Linked DNA regions of Homo sapiens. The protein of the gene in region 3 interacts with the protein of the main gene of each other region in a pairwise test. Each region holds a gene or a part of one and is shown on either strand. Other genes may lie near its edges. The genes, in order: IKZF3, ZNF526, PRPF18, HSF2BP, FXR1, HMBOX1 and TRIM23.

Evidence for each region.
Region 1: the proteins of PRPF18 (region 3) and IKZF3 interact in binary tests that used the Homo sapiens proteins (3 or more experiments, as listed by UniProt).
Region 2: the proteins of PRPF18 (region 3) and ZNF526 interact in binary tests that used the Homo sapiens proteins (3 or more experiments, as listed by UniProt).
Region 4: the proteins of PRPF18 (region 3) and HSF2BP interact in binary tests that used the Homo sapiens proteins (3 or more experiments, as listed by UniProt).
Region 5: the proteins of PRPF18 (region 3) and FXR1 interact in binary tests that used the Homo sapiens proteins (3 or more experiments, as listed by UniProt).
Region 6: the proteins of PRPF18 (region 3) and HMBOX1 interact in binary tests that used the Homo sapiens proteins (3 or more experiments, as listed by UniProt).
Region 7: the proteins of PRPF18 (region 3) and TRIM23 interact in binary tests that used the Homo sapiens proteins (3 or more experiments, as listed by UniProt).

Annotation. Positions count from the first base shown.
Region 1 is NC_000017.11:39,854,313-39,857,812, reverse strand, and holds part of IKZF3 (zinc finger protein Aiolos), read left to right. Parts: intron 1-3,500. UniProt on the Homo sapiens protein: Transcription factor that plays an important role in the regulation of lymphocyte differentiation. Plays an essential role in regulation of B-cell differentiation, proliferation and maturation to an effector state.
Region 2 is NC_000019.10:42,223,312-42,226,006, forward strand, and holds part of ZNF526 (zinc finger protein 526), read left to right. Parts: intron 1-903; 5' UTR 904-994; intron 995-1,075; 5' UTR 1,076-1,092; coding exon 1,093-2,695. UniProt on the Homo sapiens protein: May be involved in transcriptional regulation.
Region 3 is NC_000010.11:13,589,965-13,593,464, reverse strand, and holds part of PRPF18 (pre-mRNA-splicing factor 18), read right to left. Parts: intron 1,698-3,500; exon of another isoform or gene 1,598-1,697; coding exon of another isoform or gene 1,577-1,597; intron 1-1,576.
Region 4 is NC_000021.9:43,631,989-43,635,488, forward strand, and holds part of HSF2BP (heat shock factor 2-binding protein), read right to left. Parts: intron 1,434-3,500; coding exon 1,284-1,433; coding exon of another isoform or gene 1,275-1,283; intron 1-1,274. UniProt on the Homo sapiens protein: Meiotic recombination factor component of recombination bridges involved in meiotic double-strand break repair.
Region 5 is NC_000003.12:180,968,170-180,971,669, forward strand, and holds part of FXR1 (RNA-binding protein FXR1), read left to right. Parts: coding exon 1-85; intron 86-1,988; coding exon 1,989-2,189; intron 2,190-2,905; coding exon of another isoform or gene 2,906-2,986; intron 2,987-3,500. UniProt on the Homo sapiens protein: mRNA-binding protein that acts as a regulator of mRNAs translation and/or stability, and which is required for various processes, such as neurogenesis, muscle development and spermatogenesis.
Region 6 is NC_000008.11:28,893,395-28,896,894, forward strand, and holds part of HMBOX1 (homeobox-containing protein 1), read left to right. Parts: intron 1-3,500. UniProt on the Homo sapiens protein: Binds directly to 5'-TTAGGG-3' repeats in telomeric DNA. Associates with the telomerase complex at sites of active telomere processing and positively regulates telomere elongation.
Region 7 is NC_000005.10:65,593,334-65,596,833, reverse strand, and holds part of TRIM23 (E3 ubiquitin-protein ligase TRIM23), read left to right. Parts: intron 1-302; coding exon 303-413; intron 414-2,188; coding exon 2,189-2,313; intron 2,314-3,500.

The DNA.
Region 1 (3,500 bases), on a different chromosome or scaffold from region 3:
GTACCCAACCCAGTCCCCAGCACATAGTAGGCCTGTAGTCATATTTGTTTAATAAATTAATGAATGAGTTGCCTGTGTGTTTGATCATTTGACTCTTTTCTTGCCCAGCTTTTATAGTAAAGGGGGGAAGGAAAATAGAGACATTGAAATTGGTAAATTTTGCTGGCTAATTTGTTAAAGGTACTGTTAAAGGTTTGGTAGAAGAGATTGAAGTATTGGCTAAATCCAATGCGTGAATACGGCCATTTTTCTAATCCATGCCCCCCACAAAATACAATGCCTTCTAACTTTTGGCTTTATTTAATAATTTTGGTACATTTTTTATTTCAGTGAAGCACTGCAGTTTCCACTATAAACCTTTTCTTCACAATAGATGTTTTGATTCTTAAAATTGTTGAACATCACTTAATTTGAATACTCTATCACAGCAACATCAGTTCATTTAAGAAGTAATGTATATTAGAGAGACTATTAATTTACCAGAATATTTGGCACATCAGAACAATTTCCTCTAGGAGTTTGTGGATATGAGAAAAAGATCACTCTCACAAACCTATAACATTTTTATGGATATGGAATTACATCATAACTGATGGAAAATATTGTCCAGTATGAAAACTGGAAGTAACTAATTTTTATAATATATAACAACTAGTCATTTTTGCTGTCATCTACCTCTATCTCTTAGTTAAGAAATCCCTTGACCTAGACTGCTAAAAATCACTAATAGTTGATTTATATGCTTACATACAGTGTAGGCAGTTCCACAAAGGTGCTTCACGGGCTAACTTGATTTAAATTTCATTTGAATTTCACATAAAATTCCAGACTTTAAAGTATTGAAGATGATCAGTGTATAAATTTATCCTCTGACCTCAAAATGAGGCTTTTTTTTCCAAATATTAAAATTTTATAAACATGATGAGTAAAATCATGGTGCTGCTGGTCTTTTTTCTCCTGTGCATATTTTCTCATGTAAAATTATTATTATTATTATTATTATTTTGAGATGGAGTCTCGCTCTTGTTGCCCAGGCTGGAGTGCAGTGGTGCAATCTTGGCTCATTGCAACCTCTGCCTCCCAGGTTCAAGCAATTCTCCTGCCTCAGCCTCCCGAGCAGCTGGGATTACAGGCTCCCGCTACCACGCCCGGCTAATTTTTGTATTTTTAGTAGAGACAGTATTTCACCATGTTGGCCAGGCTGATCTCGAACTCCTGATCTCAGATGATCCGCCCGCCTTGGCATCCCAAAGTGTTGGGATTACAGGCATGAGCCACCACGCTGTAAAAGTTATTTAAGTAAGAATATTATTAACAGTTTGTGACCAGCTGGCCAACATGGTGAAACCTTATCTCTACTAAAAATATGAAAATTAGCTGGGTGTGGTGGCACGTGCCACCACCAGCAAGGCAGGAGAATTGCTTGAACCTGCGAGGCCGAGGTTGCAGTGAGTGGAGATTGCACCACTGCACTCCAACCTGGGTGACAGAGCCAGACTCCGTCTCAAAAAAATAAATAAATAAAAAAGAATATTACTAACTGTCTTATTCCCTGTACTTTATTAAGTGCCTGTAAAGGCTAAGGCTCAGCTGCTTGGGACATGCTTCTGTCACAGTATAGTAATCAACTACTCACTAACAAAGACATGTAACATGTAACCTTACAAGCATTTAAAAGAGTTATTATATACATGTTATATTGTACATATACAATATACATGTTATATTGTACATATACAATATACATGTTATATTGTACATATACAATATACATGTTATATTGTACATATACAATATACATGTTATATTGTACATATACAATATACATGTTATATTGTACATATACAATATACATTGTATATTATAATACATGTTACATCATCATCGTATATTATAAATCTTAAATACTTATAATAAAGTTGGGGCATTTCTTGTTTGATTTTTATGTTCAGAATGAAATAAAATGAATGTTAAATATTTTTGTGATTCAACTTTGAAGCAAAGATTACTTATCATCCTTTCTCAAGTTTCTGGGAGTAGTTTAATTAAAAACTGTTCTGAAATAATAAGGTGAAGCACTCCTGCCTCAGCCTCCTGAGTAGCTGGGATTACAGGCATGTGCCAATACTGCCCGACTAATTTTTCAGATTTGAATTAGTAGGGCTAGGAGACCAGAATGCACAAACAAGTAACAGCTTCTAAGTGTGCCAAGCCAATAGCATAGTATGCACATCTCAATAAAAGGAATTTGGAGATTCTCAAAGGACTCTATAGATATCCATTGCAAACATCAATGACCTAGTATGGACTTAGTTGCCCCAGACCTAAACAACTAGAACATTTTTACACGTAATCCAATTTGGGGAGGGAGATCCAATCTATATAATAGGACAAATAATGACTGAACAAGTTGATATTAGGAATTCATGTAGTGCTTATAGATTTTATAACTACTACTCTACACAATGAGACTTGATGATTACACGATGACCTTGAGGTATTTCACTGTTAGTCTCACATTTCAACAAGAGTTAGGATTAGACACAAAAACAAGACAAAAACTTGTTTTTTTTGCAACAGGACACCGTTTATACCAAAATCTTATGTGGGATCAGATGCAAGTGTAATGTTCCAAATGAGAGATTGGAGAAGGAGCAAGAGACCACTGCTAAGCCTATCTTCCTCTTGCCATAGATCAGCCCTGTGGCAGCCCTCTGCAACCCTGGATTCCATAAAACACATTTTGAAAATGACTGATTTAGACCGTTACATGTTTTTCCTACTAGTAACCCTGTATCTAGACTTGCCTCTTTTAATCTGTTTTGAGGATTGCTGCCAGAATGATCTTCCTAAAACATAAAGTTATTCTCCTACTCAGACACCATTTTAAATATTTTTTGGTTGGACATTTAAGATACTCCACAACACAGCTTCAGTACCTTTCCAGTGGTATCTTCTGTCCTGTAATGTGACTCTGGACTGCTGCTTAGTGTTCCCTGTTCAGGCATTGCTTTCCCTCACTCCCCATTTTTCTAATGCTGTTCTTCCAACTCAACAAGTCCAAAAATGAACTAATTTTCTCTCCAATCCAAACCAACTTCTCCTGACTTCCCAACACTGTTAATAGCACCACAATCATGCCAACTGAAATCCTCACTCATCCATTATGGTCTATCCTAAATGCCATCTCCTTTAGGAAGCCATCCCTCATTCTAAGAGGAATACCTTCCTTTTCTGAAACGTAGTGACATTTTTTGCTGTCTAATGACTTCTAGACTGTAACTCCATTTTATGTTCAAACATGAAGCATTTTTGCATGGTTTTAGTACACTCAAATTTATCTAGGATTGGAATTACCACCTACATTGAGAGAGGATGATTTTTTTTGTTTAGTTTAGAGCTTAGCCACTTTTACCATTATTATTACTGTTTTTCATTTGATCCATGGCTTTATTTCCTTGTTTTTTAAATTTTATTTCCTTGCTTGTTTTTTTTTTTAA
Region 2 (2,695 bases), on a different chromosome or scaffold from region 3:
TCTTGGCCAACATGGTGAAACCCCATCTCTACTAAAAATACAAAAATTGGCCGGGCGTGGTGGCTCATGCCTGTAATCCCAGCACTTTGGGACGCCCAGGCGGGCAGATCACGAGGTCAGGAGATTGAGATTGTCCTGGCTAACACGGTGAAACCCTGTCTCTACTAAAAATACAAAAAATTAGCCGGGCGTGGTTGCAGGCGCCTGTAGTCCCAGCTACTCGGGAGGCTGAGCCAGGAGAATGGCCTGAACCTGGGAGGCAGAGCTTGCAGTGAGCAGAGATTGCACCACTGCACTCCAGCCTGGGCGACAGAGCGAGCCTCCATCTCAACAATAACAACAAAAAAATACAAAAATTAGCTGGGCATGGTGGCGCACACTTGTAGTCCCAGCTACTCGGGAGGCTGAGACAGGAGAATCACTTGAACCTAGGAGGTGGAGGTTGTAGTGAGCCGAGATTGCGCCACTGTACTCTAGCCTGGCAACAGAGCAAGAGTCCATCTCAAAAAAAAAAAAAAAAAAAAAAAGAGGCCGGGCTGTTGGCCGGGGTGGTGGCTCACATCTGTAATCCCAGCACTTTGGGAGGCCAAGGCGGGTGGATCACCTGAGGTCAGGAGTTCAAGACCAGCCTGGCCAACATGGTGAAACCTTGTCTCTACTAAAATATATATATATATATATATATATATATACAAAAATTAGCCAGGCATGGTGGCACACCCCTGTAGTCCCGGCCACTCAGGAGGCTGAGGCACGAGAATAGCTTGAACCCAGGAGCGAGAGGTTGCAGTGAGCCAAGATTGTGCCACTGCACTCCAGCTTGGGTGACAGACCAAGTCTCTGTCTCAGAAGAAAAAAAAAAAAAAAAAAGAGGCTGGGCTGAGTGGTGTTTCTCTCCTGCAGGCTGCCGTGGGGTGTGTGTAGGCTTCAGAGACATGGGATCACGGAAGACTGAAGCAGAAACAGTGGATTAAGACTTCCTGAGCGATAGCTGGTGAGTAGTGGGATGTGCAAGAGAATTCCACCTCCCCTTGGTTTCCTGCTGTCTCACTGGCTCCTGCCCCTCTTTCTCCAGGCACTGCCTTCCCCACAATGGCAGAGGTGGTGGCTGAGGTGGCCGAGATGCCAACACAGATGTCACCAGGGGCAGTGGAGATGTCAACACCTATGTCGGCAGAGATGATGGAGATGTCAACAGAAGTGACTGAGATGACACCTGGGGAGGCCCTTGCCTCATCCCTCTTCTTCCAGCATCACCAGTTCATGTGCTCTGAGTGTGGCAGCCTCTATAACACACTGGAGGAAGTCCTCTCACACCAGGAGCAGCACATGCTTGCTGTCTCAGAGGAGGAGGCACTGACCACACAGAATGTTGGCCTGGAGCCGGAGCTGGTGCCGGGTGCTGAGGGGCCCTTCCAGTGTGGTGAATGCAGCCAGCTCATCCTCTCCCCTGGGGAGCTCCTGGCCCACCAGGATGCCCACCTCCGAGAGTCTGCAAACCAGATCCAATACCAGTGCTGGGACTGCCAGGAGCTGTTCCCCTCGCCCGAGCTGTGGGTGGCTCATCGAAAGGCCCAGCACCTTTCTGCTACGGTAGCTGAGCCACCAGTGCCACCTCCTTTGCCTCCCCCAACACCACTGCCTCCACCTTCTCCCCCATCCGAAGTCAAGATGGAGCCCTATGAGTGTCCTGAGTGCTCTACCCTCTGCGCCACCCCTGAGGAGTTCTTGGAGCATCAGGGCACCCACTTTGACTCCCTAGAGAAAGAGGAGCGCAATGGGTTGGAGGAGGAGGAAGAGGACGATGAGGAGGATGAAGAAGATGATGAAGAGATGGAGGATGAGGAGGCCATGGCAGAGGTCGGTGATGATGCTGTGGGAGGTGACGAGTCCACAGCTGGCTGGGCTCAGGGCTGCGGGGACTGTCCCCAGCACCAGCCCTCAGCAGGGGCTCGCCGGCAACACCGGCGGACGGCTCACAGCCCGGCATCTGCCACCCACCCCTTCCACTGCAGCCAGTGTCAGCGCAGTTTCAGCTCCGCCAACCGGCTGCAGGCTCATGGGCGGGCCCATGTTGGTGGCACACATGAGTGTACAACCTGCTCCAAGGTCTTCAAGAAAGCAGCATCGCTTGAGCAGCACTTGCGGCTGCATCGCGGGGAAGCCCGCTACCTCTGTGTAGACTGTGGCCGCGGCTTTGGCACAGAACTCACGTTGGTGGCTCACCGGCGGGCCCACACTGCCAACCCATTGCATCGCTGTCGTTGCGGCAAGACGTTCAGCAACATGACCAAGTTCCTCTACCACCGGCGCACTCACGCCGGCAAAAGCGGGGCACCTCCCACAGGAGCAACAGCTCCCCCAGCTCCAGCGGAGCCCACCCCTCCACCACCACCCCCTGCCCCACCTGCCCAGCTGCCCTGCCCACAGTGCTCCAAGTCCTTTGCCTCAGCTTCCCGGCTGTCCCGGCACCGGCGTGCAGTACACGGGCCCCCTGAACGGCGTCACCGCTGTGGGGTTTGTGGCAAGGGCTTCAAGAAGCTGATCCACGTGCGCAACCACCTGCGGACACACACGGGTGAGAGGCCCTTCCAGTGCCACTCATGTGGCAAGACCTTTGCTTCTTTGGCCAACCTCAGCCGCCACCAGCTGACCCATACGGGTGCACGTCCCTACCAATGCCTGGACTGTGGCA
Region 3 (3,500 bases):
TGTGGACATCCATTCTGTTTCACTGAAAAAACCTCCTTGGGGTCATAAATAATGTCTAAGATACAAATCCAAAGAGACTTCTCTGACTGATCTCATCCAGTCTTCGATTTAACTGCTCATTCCTTCCTTCCTTCAGTAACTTTCTCCTCTTAGCTGACAGATTCTTCTTATGTCTTCCTCACTTACTGGTTTGCTTAGATTTTCTATTTCTTGTATTTTTTTGTACTTTTTAGCCATTTACTTCACTTAGATTTTCCAATGTATTAGAACTAGTATACAGTTTTCCTTACTAATTTTATTTTCCAATGTCTCCCATGTTGGTTCCTGCCATTCCTTCCATTGGTCCTTCATTTCAGAATGTTTTGTATAATGTGGGGTAGGGGTTGTTGCTTATTATTTCCGTATGGATATCCAGTTGTTCAGCATCATTTACTGAAAATATCTTTCCTTCCATTTGGTTTTAGTGTATTTGTCAAAAATCAATAATTGTGTAAGGGTGGCTCCGTTCTGGGTGCTCTGTTATACTCTAGTGGTGTTAGCTGTTGCTCTTTATGCCAGCGCTATGCTGTTTTGATTATTGTAGCATTGTTACTGCAGCACAGCATAGTATCTTGCATATAGGAAAGATGCAGTAAATACTGGAAGGAAAAAAAGCTAAAATTCTGCACATAGCTCATCCTCATAACTACAACTAGTAAAACTACTAATTACTCCCCATTGAGTTTCTAGAGCAGCCTGGTTTTCCACACGAGGTTTTGCATTAAATGAAAACTCACCAATTCTAGGCTCCAAAACACTGGTGTTCTAGCAATGCAGACACATTTACCTCAGGGTGGTTACACCAGGCAGGGCACTTTAGGACAGGTGGTAAGAGGATATCTTAGTCACTTCTCTGCAATTTGAGAAAGAGGCACTCACAAGCTAAGTACTGATTATTTCAACTATCACAGATTAACCACAAAAAGCTGGGACACCACTTGAAATGACCAAAGATGAGGTGGCTCTTCTTTCTGCAAGAGCAACACCACACAGACAACTGTTTTCCAGCTACAGATGCGGTAATGACAACAATCTACTGATCCCTGACCCGTGTTTTCTAAAAAATTAAAACAAAGGGACTTGCTCTTCCCCATCTTGTAAGATGGTGGGTGAAAAAGTTGAGAAGCCGGATACTAAAGAGAAGAAACCCAAAGCCAAGAAGGCTGAGGCTGGTGACAAGGTGAAAAAGGGTCACCTCAAGGCTAAGAAGCCCAAGAAGGGGAAGCCCCATTGCAGCACAACCCTGTCCTTGTCAGAGGAATTGGCAGGTATTCCCGATGTGCTATGTATTCCAGAAAAGCTGTGTATAAGAGGAAGTACTCAGCCGCTAAGTACGAGGTTGAAAAGAAAAAGAAGGTTCTTGCAACTGTTACAAAACCAGTTGGTGGTGACAAGAATGGTAGTACCCAGGTGGTTAAACTTCATAAAATGCCTAGATATTTTCCTACTGAAGATGTGCCTCAAAAGCTGTTGAGCCATGGCAAAAAAAAAAAAAAACCCTCAGTTGACACGTGAGAAAACTGCGAACCAGCATTACCCCGGGGAACGTTCTGATCATCCTCACTGGATTCCACAGAGGCAAGAGGGCGGTCTTCCTGAAGCACCTGGCTAGTGGCTTGTTACTTGTGACTGGACCTCTGGTCCTCAATCGAGTTCCTCTATGAAGAAAACACCAGAAATCTGTCATTGCCACCTCAACCAAAATTGTTATCAGCGATGTAAAAATCCCAAAACATCCCACTGATGCTTATTCAAGCAGCAGCAGCTGCAGAAGCCCAGACACCAGGAAGCTGAGATCTTCAGCACAGAAAAAGATAAATACAAGATTACAGAGCAGCACAAGATTGATCAGAAAGCTGTGGAGTCACAAATTTTACCAAAAATCAAAGCTATTCCTAAGCTCCAGGACTACCTGCGATCTGTGTTTGCCCCGACTCATGGAATTTATCCTCACAAATTGGTGTTCTACATTTCTTAAGAAGAACCTAATTAAATAACTGATAACAAAAAAGGAGGACTGAATAAAACATGATAAAATCATTTGTGGTTGTAAGAATTATTTCATAAAACTTTTTTCACATACATATCAGATCAATATATAAAAATGTATTGCTATGAACGGGGCAGTGAAAAAGTCTGTAAGTTACTGACAGACACTGTGATGCAGAAAGATGAAAAATATAAAGCAACTATTCTGCATGAAATGATAGAGCTGCAGATCTAAAGACTGTCTTCCCATGGATACAACAGAAAAGACGCCTAGTTGTGTATGTTCCCTTACATCATGCAAGAGCACTCACCCTCAAGTTGGTCTAAGACTTGAGATCTATCCCGGCTGGCCACAGGAATATGAGAACATCGTGTAACCCTCTAAGCCTCAATTTCATCATCCATGAAAACAGCATTGCCTTGTGCACTAATTAACCGTTGTAAAGCTCAAATCAGATAGCATATAGCACTTTGAAAAATATAAATCATGTTAGTCTAATAATTTTCCAGTGCTTTGTTACATTAGCCCTATCAAAACTAGTTCTATGTTTGTAAGGTGAATAAATATCCATTCTATCTGTACAGGTTAACAGATCAGGCTCTGAAGTAGGAACAGACCAGGGTTCAAATCCAGGCTCTATCTCTTGCTAGCTGCATAATCCTATAGTCATGTAACTTCTCTTAGCTTCCAGTTTCCTCATCTGTAAATGGGAACAATGGCAACTTGTTGTACAAGTTAGAAAACACATATTGCATGATGCCTAACATTACTGCTAATATAAACTATGAATGTCAGTATTTTTTTTTTTTTTTTTTGAGATGGAGTCTCGCTCTGTCGCCCAGGCTGCAGTGCAGTGGCACAATATCAGCTCACTGCAAGCCCCGCCTCCCGGGTTCACGCCATTCTCCTGCCTCAGCCTCCTGAGTAGCTGGGACTACAGGCACCTGCCACCATGCCCAGCTAATATATATATATATATATATTTTTTTTTTTTGTATTTTCAGTAGAGATGGGGTTTCACCGTGTTAGCCAGGATGGTCTCAATCTCGTGATCTGCCCACCCCAGGCTCCCAAAGTGCTGGGATTACAGGCGTGAGCCACCGCGCCCGGCCGAATGTCAGTATTTTAATTCCCATTTCATGTACGCCCTTTGTTGGTCTGAACTGCTCTGTGATTGAAAAAATCAATCTTATCTTCTGGCTGGAATTATGTGATAATTCAATCAACTACCAAATTAAAAAATGAAAGACACCCAGGAAAAGTTTATATATTATAAATTATAAATGACCCTGAAGAATCTAAAGTTTTTTTTTTAATGATCATTTTTGTAGATTGGTGCATTTCAATGACGAAGAACATGATTATGCAAATATTCATGTTGTGAACCTTGAGGGTGGGCTGAATATTTTGTGATTCACTTTTCCCTTTAAAGCACTTAGATTTCAACACCCTGGCCCTTCCTAACATCCAC
Region 4 (3,500 bases), on a different chromosome or scaffold from region 3:
ACACACTCCCACACACACAGGCTCCCACATACACACACATGCTCCCACACACACACACGCTCCCCCCCCACACACGCTCCCACATACACACGCTCCCACACACACACACGCTCTCCCCACACACACGCTCCCCCAAACACACACACGCTCCCACACACACACTCACACAGTCTCACACACACACGCTCCCCCACACACACACATGCTCCCCCACACAAACACACATACGATCCCACATACACAGGCTCACACACACACACACACACTCCCCCACACACACGCTCCCCCCACACACACACACAGGCTCCCACATACACACACACGCTCCCACACACACACTCCCCCACACACACATGCTCCCATACACACACGCTCCCACACACACACGCTCCCCCCCCACACACACACACTCCCCCACACACACATGCTCCCACACACACACACAGTCACACACACATGCACATGCTCAAACACACATGCTCACACACACACGCTGCCACACACACACACAGTTGAACCTTGAAAACAAGGGTTTGAACTGCACAGGTCCACTTACACAAGAATTTTCTTCAGTAAAAGTTACACCAAGTGTGTCTGCTGCTCCAGCCTCCCCTTCCACCTCCTCCACCTCTACCACCCTTTAGACAGCAATGCCAACCCAACCACTCCTCTTCCTCCTCCTCTTCAGCCTACTCAATTTGAAGATGATGAGGGGGAAGACCTTCATGATGATCTAACATACAAAAAATGTGTTAATCAACGATTTATGTTGTCAGTAAGGCTTCCAGCCAACAGTAGAGAGAGTCAAAAGTTCTATGTGGCTTTTCGACTGTGCAGGGGGTCAGCGCCTCCAACCTCCATGTTGCTCAAGGTTCTGCATCTATATGTATGTGTGTGTGTGTGTATGTATAAACACACACACACATCTACATACATGTATATATGTTAGATAACACAATATTCAATAAATACTATATTAACCATGAGATAATATATATAAAAGCACTTTTGATCTTCTTAAACACATGTAAAGTATTAATACTGAAGTGGTAATATGTCCACATATACCACAAGGTCTCCTGGAGAGAAGGGATCTTATTTCATTCCCTTTGCATCAGGTTACAATGAACCATATACGATAAGTATTCAATAACTAGCTGATGAGTGAACAAAAGAAAATGGAAAGATATGGACTTAGTCTTTAAATGCCTTAATAAGCTATATGCTCTAATTTACACAAGCAGTAATCAACAATATCTGGAGAGCCCACTGACCATACTTACTCCTCCCAAAATGGCCTTGACGACTTCCTCACTGCTGGAGACACCCCACAAGAGGGTACACGCTGCTGCTCCCATTTCTGTACAATACTCTGCCTGCTGCAGGAGTTGCTGCTTCGCTTCATTCAACTGCTGTCGAAGAGCCAGTTTCTCCTAAAAGCAAAACAAAATTGAAAAATAAATAATAGCATTCAACCTTGATATATCTTTATTACATTTCCTCTTTCACAAAGATATTTATTAAAGAAATGCATGTATAATTATAGAAAATAGTTGCAAATGAAAGCTAGTCCTAAGAGAACCATAATCTGTATCTACAAAAGAAATTTCAAAGGCAAAAATATTTGAGAAATATCTGAGGAAAGAACATACTACCACATTATGGTTGATAAACCCACAGAGCTGAATTCATCTGCTTTAAGTAACTACATGAAATATCTCAAGCCCCAAGTAACTATACCCAGAACCAGCACCAACCGAGGCTTCTGAACAAAAACAACCTCACAAAGCAATTTACCCAGAAAGCAACATTTCTAAGACAGGAGACTGCCTCCTCCAAATGGCTCACTCCATTGAAAAAACGCCATCTGCCAGAGGCAGACACCAAATAAAAGGCACTTGGACATCAGGATTTGTAAAAAAACAAGTACTTTAGAAAAACTCATCCTGTATAAACGTATCCTTAACTCCTCATGAGAATATTGCCAAAGGTGCCAGTAAATATAAAATACAATCTGTGAAGCTAAACAGGGAAAGAAAACCTAAAACCTAAGACCAGGTAGGAAAGATGGGAGGAGGGGCAAAAAGAAGTGTGAAGGCTGGGAGTCCTATTCATGCCCTGGTGCAGCAAGCCAGTGCCAGTCTAAGAAGAAGATGGAGGCTAGGAAGAGTTTCCTACTCTCCCACCAGCAGTGTCTGAGGTGACCTGTAGCTGGGCAAGTCTCCACCATGGCACTCTTCACAAGGGAAACACAGGGAATGGCCGTCCTGATGGCCCTCCTGACAACACAAGCACACTTCGAGGATTCACCTTGAGTGTACTGCTAGAGTGATGGGGGGCTTCCTGTCCTCTCCAACCACCAGCACCAGGTACCTGAAATTCCCTTAAAAGGTGATAGCATTTCCTGATTTAATAAGACAAAAACTGAAAAATATAAAACCCCAGTTAAATTCATTTATACCAAATGTAATTAGTTACATAAACCACAAAATTAAAGTATATTAAATGCTGTAGATTTTCTTTTAGAGAGATAAATACAAGACAAAGTAGAGGGGGCTTTTCACCCCCTGGAGGAAAAAGGGAGCTTTGGAGCCACAAATCAAAACTGTTGACCTCATAACTTGGATTAGGGTGGCCCACTCATAGTTACCTGGAGACAATGCGTTTGGCACACAGAGATTCATACACATTCATACGTATATGCACACATGTATTTAAGAAAAAAATGGCCACTGAGCCTCTGGCACATGCTAATACTGCATCATGTGATCTGTCAGCTCCGGGTTTTTAATGTCTTCATTATAGCAACAATCTGGACTCCTAGATTCATCCTTTCAGTGTACGTAGCTGAACACAAGTCATGGTGACACATGAAGAAAACTATGTCACAGCACTTCCTTTTGGAATTCTAGCTTTTCTCACAACTTAAGCTGTCTGCATCTCAATTAGTCAGGATATGGTGGTTCTTCTGCACGACCACAAAAAGACTACTGAGAAGAACCAGGAAGGACTTTGCTCACTACAGTCACATTTGGTAGTTGCAGGAGGATATTCCCCAACGCAGGGTTCCACACATAGTATAATAATATCAAAAAAAAAACAAACAAACCTCAAAGAAAATCATAGCATTCCCAGTAACATCAAAAATAAGAATAATTTTTTAAGGTGCAAGACCTATACAATGAAAACTACAAAGCATTACTGAGAGAAAGTAGAGCTAAATAAAGAGATACACCATGTTCAAAAATTGGCAGGATGTCAATTCTTCCCAAACTGATCTACAGATTCAACACAATCCCTATCAAAATCTCAGCAGACTTCTGTACAAAGTGATAATCTGATTCTAAAATTTCTATGGAAATTCAAGACAGAATATCTAAAAAATTGTCTGAAAAAGAAGAACAATGTTAGAAGACTAACAGTGCCTGATTTAGAGGAAAAAACTAACTATAAACCTACCGAAATAGAACCATTGTGGTATTGCTATAAGGATGGACATA
Region 5 (3,500 bases), on a different chromosome or scaffold from region 3:
AGACGCCCAGGAGGAAGAGGCAGAAGTGTTTCAGGGGGTCGAGGTCGTGGTGGACCACGTGGTGGCAAATCCTCCATCAGTTCTGGTAGTCTTTTCTATACTCTGTCAGCATCCATTATTTGTAAACAGTTTAATTTTACAAAAGTTAATTCATCTCCCAGGGCCACCCATTTTTGGAAGTTTCTCTTGCTACTCATTGTCTTAGAGAAAGTAGTGGACCATATAGCAGTATCAGGAAAAGCCCTCGTAGAGTGTTTCTCAGTGAAGGTTTACTTAGAATATACTGGTCAGAACTTTAGTTGGCAGCTTTTCTTTATATGATGAGGGTCAGATGTTTCTCTCTTCAGGTTTTGGAGGCTTATTTAATTAGAATTTTTTTTGTTTTCCCTAGAATTTTGGGGTTATGTTTTTTTGTTTGCCAGACAGACCCAGAGATTTCTAATGCACAGAGAGATGTCAGTACTTTTCTATACTTAATATTGAAAACGAAGTGAAGAGCATTCTTAGCTACACTATGTAGTACTTTGGGAACAGGGAAAAATTGTGGAATTAACTAAGTTTTTTAATTGTTGGAGGAACTGTGCTGTAAAGAGGAGTGTTTGGATGACTAAAGATTTGAGGGTGTAGGAAACGTTTTACTTAATTACTTCTGTCTTCTAAAATTTTTTTATGCTTTACATTAAGTTGTAGGAGTTTCCAGAATATCCTTGGTTACCATAACGGGCTAGGGAGTTAATTGCCAGGGATAGATACATAGACTATATTAAGGATATAACTTTAACATATCATTATGGTATACCACGTTAAGAAACCCGCACCTTCCTTAATGTTATACCCATGAAAACTTATGTAGTATTTTAATATTATAGAAAGTGTGTGTAGATACATTAAATATAGATGCCAACTGTGCTTACAAATTACAAAAACTGGAACAAATCAGGGCAAAAATTAGGAACTTGTTCTTTGTTTGTTTAGATTTTCTCCCTTTCCACAGTAATACTCTTTGAGCCTTAAGTTTAGTTTACAGGCTTTCAGGGTAATAGTTTTTATATTTTAGTACACTTTGTACAGTTACCAAGGTGTTTAAAATTACAGTATACTGAATTGCAAAATAAATGTACTTGACCTAGTGTTTTATGATTAATGGATACGCTTAGTGTCTTTTGCAAAGATGCTTAGCTTGCTAGCTGTTACCAAAGGAATCTTAGGAAAAATCGGAATTAGGTGAATTTCTTCTATAAATTTGATTGTTGGAGGTAATAAATGCACATAGGTAAGATGGGTATTTTTCTTATGAATTGTACCTTACAGTTTTTCCTTTTCCACCTTCACATCACCTTCCATAATGTTTCTAAAGATGGAGTACTAGTCAGCATTCGTTTCAACATTTTCCTTTCATAACCAGTTAGAAGTTCAACCTTATTTAATTGGCTGCTTTGTTTCAACTTGTCTTGATTGCTTCAGTTCAGTTACGGATTTCTATTATGTCATGGAATGCAGGTATTGAATATTATTTGGGAAACAGTCCATCAACATCAACACAACAAAGCTGCAGTCATTTTGAACTCAGTTAAGGGGATGAAAGCTCGCTCTTATAATTATTTCTTAACAGCTGAATATTTGTTTCTTTTCATTTTTGTTTTTCTAGTCTCTGGGCAGGATTACCTTGAAATGTGAATGCAAGAATTAGCATTTAATACACTATTTTCTAATGTATATTTTAAAAACAAGGCACAGGAAATGTTAGGAAGCCAAGATGTCTGCTTACTTTCTGCTTTAATTTTTCATCACCACTTAAAGTTTTATCATATTTAATTATCTTTGTTATTTTCCAGGTAAATAATATTGAAAACATTTTATTTGAAGACAGTGCATTTTTATTGGGGGAGACTGAAGTTTATTTGTCATTGATATAGTTCAATATAGATCAAACATTCATAATTGCAGTACTCTTAAACGAATATTTCTTGCCTCTGACATGAATATAGTGCTCAAAGATCCAGACAGCAATCCATACAGCTTACTTGATAATACAGAATCAGATCAGACTGCAGACACTGATGCCAGCGAATCTCATCACAGTACTAACCGTCGTAGGCGGTCTCGTAGACGAAGGACTGATGAAGATGCTGTTCTGATGGATGGAATGACTGAATCTGATACAGCTTCAGTTAATGAAAATGGGCTAGGTATGTAAGCACTTAGGGAAGAGAAATATATATATATATATATATATATATATATATATATATAATTGTAAACTATTGTTAGTATATGAAGCTTTTTTCAAAGAAATATGCAATTCACAAATTGACTTTTTCTTAGTGTTTACTTTGAACAAGGTAGATAGCTTTTTGTCTATCTTAAATGTTTAGTTCTCAGATTTGTTATAGCCAAATTATTTGAAACTTGGAGGGTTAAAGTGCCCTTTGATGCCATTAAATCAGTACAAATATTCAGCTGGCAAGGTACTTAGTGCTTTTATTGTCCCCAAGCTAAAATCAGGCTTTCATCTTGCCTCTTTTAAAATAATTATAAATGACACTGGTAAAGGTACATATATCAAGAGTAGGCATTAATTTTCAAGGGCTAAAATGTCATTAACTTCGGTATAAACCAAACTGTACTAGAGAGGAAGACTGTGTCCCTGAATGATGGCAGTTTAAGTCTGAGTTTTACTGTGAGTTAAAACCCTCTGAATTTCCAGATGATAATTCCATTTTTAATCCATTTGGAATGCTGAAAGCTACAAAAATGTATTTCCTGTCAGTAAACATTTGTTGTTTTATTTTTGTGTTTAATTAAAAGTTTATTTTTCCCCTTTAAATCTTTGAAGGAAAGAAGGTTTTTTTGTTTTTTTGTTTGTTTTTGTCAGAATAGTTCATGGTAAACTTTGCAATTACAGATGATAGTGAAAAAAAACCCCAGCGACGCAATCGTAGCCGCAGGCGTCGCTTCAGGGGTCAGGCAGAAGATAGACAGCCAGGTAACTTGAGTGGACCTGTGGACACCATCAGGTCACAAGCATGAAAAAAATGTCTATGTCTGCTTTCTAAATATATTATACTTACATGTACACATGTGTGCATATACATTCAAAATTTGCATTGCATAAATTGTTTATTCAACTAATAAGACTACTACTATTAAGAAAATGCATTCTTCCTTCACAGTGTGTTAGTAACTTGTCTAATTGAACTAATGTTGTGTCCTAATTGTTTACATGGAAATACTGTTGAGAAGACCATTTTGTTCACTTGGCAGTTTCTTCACACTTGAGATGGGGCCTGCCATCCGAGGGACTGTGTTGTAGATTGTGATCAAGGTTGATTGGCAAAACTGGGCAGCTTTTGCATGGTGCCTGCTTACTATATCTGAATTCAGCACCTCATTTTTGTGGGAGTTGTAATACCCACAATTAAAAAAAAAGTATAAAAGAGAAAAATATTTGAAGGTGTCTTTAACCTAATGCGAGGAATGCATGTTGTTTTTGTTTGTTT
Region 6 (3,500 bases), on a different chromosome or scaffold from region 3:
ATTGCTTCTAAAGATGTTGCCTGTATTATGGGAAGTTGAAAATCTAAGCTGCTTTTAACTAATCTGTTGCTAGTTTAGTTTACTGCATTTAGTGAACACTATGTATGGTCACAAATACGCATCAAGGAAAGGAGCCTTTAGCTGGAAGTTGAATGCCTTTAGTGAGGCTTCGTTTTCACTGCTGTACAAACAGATTTCAGTCTTCTAGCCCAAATCCTCAGTTAAAACATCGCTAATAGAAACTTAATAGCTCAGTGTTCCTAAGTTACAAAATATGTGGCAACAAATCTGTCATTGTTACATCATTTAAAAAATAGCAACCAGCTTATGGCAATTTTTGTGGCAAGTGTTGATTGGAATTCTATTGCTTGTTTCATAGATATTGAATACATTGGGAATATTTAGGCTTAATTTGTGTATTTTGAGTCTCCTGTACACTGTATTCAGCACATCCCACATTTAGGGCTCCCGTGCAATTTAGTTCTGTTCATTTCATTGTAGCTCTTGCTTCTCTTATTTTTGTATACAGCTCTTTAAACCTGAATTATTTCTCTTGGGAATCAGGTATTTATGTAGAATGTTGTCATAAGTGAAAGTTGGCATACCACTCAACTTTTTAAATACATGAACATTTATAGATAAACCGAATAGTGCTCATTGAAAATGTGTTGGTTTTGTTTGTTTTGTGAACCAGCTTTATTTAGTTCTTTGGCTTCTGGAATTAATTTTGTAGCTCACTTTGCTATTCTTTGGCTAGATTTTTCTGTTAACAGTTGGCTTTTACTTCCCACTGTAGTAGAACTGTAATTTATTAAAGCATTGTTGTGAGTGAAAAGCATGGCTTGTCTAGAGTGCCATATATGTACACCCACAATACACTCATACATAAAATACTTTTATGTTTATTTATTTATTTATGAAATTGGTGTATATCTATCAGACATGCCTCCCATAAGAAAGAATCTGAGCCACAAATAGCAGAAGACCTTGAACTTTGACTGAAGCTAGAAACCAAAGAGTAACCAGCACATGTTGTCCACATTATAGAAGCTGAGGAGATTTTCATTATCATTCCAAACCATTATTTTCACAGATTTTGTTAAAATACAGTTCTCTCAAAATGGAAGCTATTGATATTGAAAGTTTTCTCAAAATATTAGTAAGTAAGACGTAGCATGGATTCCTAGGTGCAGCTATTCCCCCACATTGCCCTTACTGGATTTAGGGCCCATCATAGGCGCAGAGTAAAGATTTTTCCATGGGATTATTTGATGTAAACTTTTAGTTGCAGTGTATTCAAACATAATCCAGTGCTTTAGATAATTTGTTTTCCTTGACCTTAGATGAAACAAGTTGGAAATTTACTATAACATTGTTTTGGACACTTTCCAAGAGCATTTAGCTCCTGGAAGGGCCCTGGCTTTAGCATGGTTTTTACCCTTATAGTGGTAATAAAGTTGAAGTTACATTAAGTTTTTCCAGTGATTAGTGTAATCTTAATGCAATATTTGACAGATTCTTAGGCTATAGTTTTTTTTTAACATTTGCAAAAAAAAAAAACAGTAACAATAGTCTGATTTTAGCTTTGAAGTGATCAATTATTTTAACTTTTTCACCCTTAAAATGGGTGACACTAGACTCCTTCCTGTTAAGTGGTAAAATGATTCTAATCCAGTCAAAGGGCACTTAGGTTTTTCTTAAATTTAGAGTGTGGATTGTGATAAAAATGTTGACTAAATTCCACATGCTGAGTATGTATTCTCTCTGGCTGCTTCTTTGTTTATCTTATGTCCAGAGATGGTCCACATGTGGTGTATTGAAAATATTAGTAGCCTCATTACTGTATACGTATTAAGTAGCGTGGAGTTGCCAAGTGGCAGTAACTTTAATTTGTATCTAGTCACAATTTTTATAGCAAGAAAGTGAAATGCTGTGGGTACTGCTGAAACAGGGATGACTTAAGACTGAATTGTTCTGCTTTAAGATTTTGATAATATAGGCCAGGCATGGTGGCTCATGCCTGTCATCCCAACACTTTGGGAGGCTGAGGTGGGCAGATCACCTAAGGTCAGGAATTCGAGACCAGTCTGGCCAACATGGCGAAACCTTGTCTCTACTGAAAAGACAAAAATTAGCTGGGTATGGTGGTGCATGCCTGTAATCCCAGCTACTCGGGAGGCTGAGGCAGGAGAATCGCTTGAACCTGGGAGGTGGAGGTTGTAGTGAGCTGAGATTGCGCCGCTGCACTCCAGCCTGGGCAACAGAGTGAGACTCAGTCTCAAAAAAAAAAAAATTTTGATAATGTATTGTATTGTTAAAACATGAAATCCTTGGCTTGTGTGTAGTCAGTCAAGCCTTGAAATTGGATGAAGTTCTCACTCTTCATCCAATCGTGAAGTCAAGTTGGTTTCGTATTTTGTATACATTTCTTTCTATTAATGTTCTCTTATTTCATATCTTCATCCTTTCTGGTTTATTGCATCAGTCTCTTAACTAATCTTGTTTGAATTTTTTTCATTAGTCATTCTAAGCTCCTAGTAGGAGTTATCTTGCCAAAATAAAATGTGAATTTGATTGTCAACCATACTTTGCCTGTAATCCTTTAGTGGCTCCTCAGACTTTGACATAAATCAAAAATTGAGAGTCATACCACCTGTGTCCAAATCCTGGTTTTTGCCAGTTACTAGCTATGTGACCTTGGGCAAATCATTTAAAATGTCTGTACCTCAGCTTCCCCATCAATAGACTGGGGATAAAAATAGTACCTACTTCATAGGATTATTGTGAGCCCTTGAAGTGCTGGCAAGTCCTTAGGATGCTTTTGGCATATTATAGTTTACAGGAAGCTGCAAAAATAGAGAGGGCACTGTAACTTTTCCCCAGTTTCCCCTATTGGTTACATCCTACATAACTTTAATACAATATTAAAACCAGGAAATTGACATCAGTACAATGTGTGTGTATAGTTCTATGCCATTTTATCACAGGTGTGTAGATTGCATAATCACCACCAAAATCAAGGTACAGAACTCTTACTGCAAAGATTGAATGATTCTCCTCCTCTTCATAAGTTCTGTTGTTTTGTCAATATAGCTAAGGAGAAAGATAACCAATTATTGGATCAGTAATTTCACTCTTTGCCTTATGTAATACAGTCATGTAGTACATAATGATGTTTCAGTCAAAAACGGACTGAATATATGACAGTGGTCCCATAAGATTATATCATATTTTAACTGTACTTTTTCCAAGGTTTAGAAACACAGATACTTTCCAGTGCGTTACAGTTGCCTACAATGTTTAATACAGTAACATGCTGTACAGGTTTGTAGCCTAGGAGCAATAGGCTATACCACCTAGGCTTGTGTAAGTACACTCTATGGTGTTCGCTCAACAATGAAATTGCCTAATGGTGCGTTTCTCAGAGTGTATCTCTGTCATTAAGTGTTGCATTGGCACATCCTGAAAGTTTTTATGAAAAATTCCACTTAAACTTTCTT
Region 7 (3,500 bases), on a different chromosome or scaffold from region 3:
GGAATAGAGGATTGGTGATCCTGGCTGAGGGTGTGGGGTGGGGGGTAGTTGTGGAACAGAGCTGGAAGGTACATGGATCCCAAGGTCCTAAGGACCTTGGTGGAGGTTTAGAGGGCTAGGAGCTGTTACAGGTATACATTCACCACGTAGGAGTAGGAATGGGGTTGATTAGGCTTCAGTAGATATTGCTGCATGTAGATAATTTGATAAGTCACAGTTATAAACTGGGGGTTGTCTGTGTTTGATATGTCATTCATTGTAAATACAAATATAGTATAAAAGTAACTTTTTTTTTAAAACAGGTTTTAACGTGGAAACTGTAGAATATAAAAATCTAAAATTCACTATTTGGGATGTAGGTGGAAAACACAAATTAAGACCATTGTGGAAACATTATTACCTCAATACTCAAGGTGAGAGTTAAAAATGACATTTAATTTTTCACATTTTTAGGATGACAGTTTTCAGTGTACTGATTTAACTAGCAAAGCTGATACTTATGATTAAGTCGTTGACTGTATACTTAAGTACCTGTGGCCAGTTTCTTAACTTGTAAAAAATGAAAGTAGAAAGATTAGGATATATACTTTTAGTTTATTCCTGATATACCATTATTACAGAATAAAAACCATACGTAGCTTAGATATGTAGTCAGTTAAGAGTACTCTTGCTTCTCTTAACAGAGAGTGTATATTACCAGTATTATATGGGTGTGACTGCTGGTAGCGTAGTGGTATAGAGTTGAATTTATGTTGTATGATTCTGCTGAATTCAGTTAAACTCAACATTTATCCCATTATAATCTCACTATAGCCCCACTCCCACATTTCTTTCACAAATAGTTATTACCTGCAGAAGAACTTACAGTAGCTTGCTTTTGACCAAACCGTATTATATCATATCTATACTCTACATAGGTTTTAGTCACATTTGGGTCTTACTCTACACTTCTGCCTCATAGACCCCAACATAATGCTTACGCTCATGCCGCTTATTCTGTATGTTATTCTGCTTTCCACCAAGATGAGAGACTGAATAATTATTTTTACTTTGGGATTTTTGATATTATTATGAGCCATAATTAATAGAAAAAATGTATTTTTTTTTTGAGACAGAATCTTGCTTTGTTGCCCAGGCAGGAGTACAGTGGCATGATTGCATTTCATGGTCACCTCTGTCTCCTGGGCTCAAGCAATCTTCCCACCTTAACTTCCCAAGTAGTTAGGACTAGGTATATGCCACCACATTCAGCTAATTTTTTTTTTTTTTTTTTTTTGAGATCGAGTCTTGCTCTGTCGCCCAGGATGGAGTGCAGTGGTGCGATCTCGGCTCACTGCAAGCTCCGCCTCCCAGGTTCACGCCATTCTCCTGCCTCAGCCTCCTGAGTAGCTGGGACTACAGGTGCCCACCACCATGCCTGGCTAATTTTTTTGTATTTTTAGTAGAGACGGGGTTTCACCATGTTAGCCAGGATGGTCTCCATCTCCTGACCTCGTGATCCGCCCGTCTTGGCCTCCCAAAGTGCTGGGATTAGAGGCACGAGCCACCGCGCCCGGCCACATTCAGCTAATTTTTAATTTTTTTTTAATAGAGATAAGGTCTCACTATATTGCCCAGGGGTCTCGAACTCCTGGGCTCAAGTGATCCTCTCACCTCAGCCTCCCAAAGTGCTGGGATTATAGGTGTGAGCCACTGTGCCCTACAAAAATGAAATTTTGAATATGAGGAATGGTTGAAAGTCTGGAGATAGTTAACTTAGACATAATACTTTGGAGAAATAAAAATGGTGATGGTTTTTATCTTTTAGTCTTTTATTCAAAGACTAAATATTAGAAAAGTAGTATTCGAAGAACAAGTAGCATCCATAGGTAGAGGATCATGAGGCATATTTTGAAATTCGTTATGTAAAAAGTTATTTGATATACAGACCAATTTGCATTTGATAGAGCAAGTGTTGTAAATCCTTTCCTAGATGGGGAAACTAAACCTGAGAAGTTATGTAAACTACTTGAAATCATACTGTTAATTATTTGTAGGTGCCCCTGCCATACTAGGCACCCTCTGTGTGAAAATAATGATGGTAGACAAACTCTAACCATAACATAATAATGATATCATTAAATATTTGGTTCATTTACTGAACTTTAGCAAGTGACTATTTTTGTTTTTTTTATTTTTTTTTGGGTAGCTGTTGTGTTTGTTGTAGATAGCAGTCATAGAGACAGAATTAGTGAAGCACACAGCGAACTTGCAAAGTTGTTAACGGAAAAAGAACTCCGAGATGCTCTGCTCCTGATTTTTGCTAACAAACAGGTAATGCATTTTTATATTGGAATATTTATTTTAGTAGTTTTGTGCATGTCAAAAGGCAACTGGAAATATTTCAGAAGACAATCAGTTCAATAGATATTTATAGTTTCTTCTGTGTATTTTGAGTACAATCTATGTGAAAATGCTGTGCTGGGTACCTGGGAGTATACAAAATAGAAATAAGGTAGTTAATGCTCACCAGAAACTCCTGTGTATGCATATGAACACATAAGAGATCTGAATACGAAGAAGACTGATAAGTAACTTAAGTAACACAGTGTTACGGGAATTAGGAAAGTAGTTCTAAATGTGGCATGTTGTAAGATTGTAAAATGTAGAATTTGAGTTGAAATTATGCATGAGGCTGAGTCAGTATGTGAAAGGAAGAACATTATAGACAGAGAAGATAATAGCATGAATGTTTTTAGTTTAGGGAACATCAAGCAGATCTATATGTCAGGTCTCAGTAGAGGATGAAGAGAATTTAGAATAACAGACAAGGCCATGCTGTAAAGGTCTGACAGTGCTAGACTGAGAAATTTAGGTTTTATTCTATGAGCAAGGAGGAGTCATCAAAATGTTGGATTAGTGGGTAATAAGATCATATCAGTGTTTCAATACTATAATTCTAGGGGTAGAATGAATCAGGGCAAAGGACTGGAGACAGGGAGATGCAGTAAATTGCTTAAATAATTCAAGTGAGCATTAACAAGAGCCTGAATTAGAGGAATAGAAAGGCGGAGGCAGATGGAAAAGACTTTGAGGCAGAACTGGTGACTGAATGGGGAGGATGAAGGACTGGGAGTAGCTGAAGATTCCTAGACCTTGAGCCTTTCTAGGAGGATGAGATGCTTTTAAGTAGAGGCAGAAGGAGAGTAGAAGTGGAGCAGAGGAGATGTCATGGGAGGGGAAGAGTAGGATGAAGAATAAAGAATTTTCCCCTTAATAAAAAAGGCAAACTATTAAGAACTGGTATATTTAAGACATGCAAATAAGTCAGTGAAATACCATTTTCTGCTCATCAGATAGTTAAAGATGAAAGTGTTTTATAATCCTCAGACTTATATACAACTGTTACTATTATTATTTTGAGACTGAGTCTTGCTCTGTCACCAGGCTGGAGTGCAGTGGCACAACCTCTGCTCACTGCAACCTCCCCCTCCTAGGTTCAAGCGATTCTTCTGCCTCAG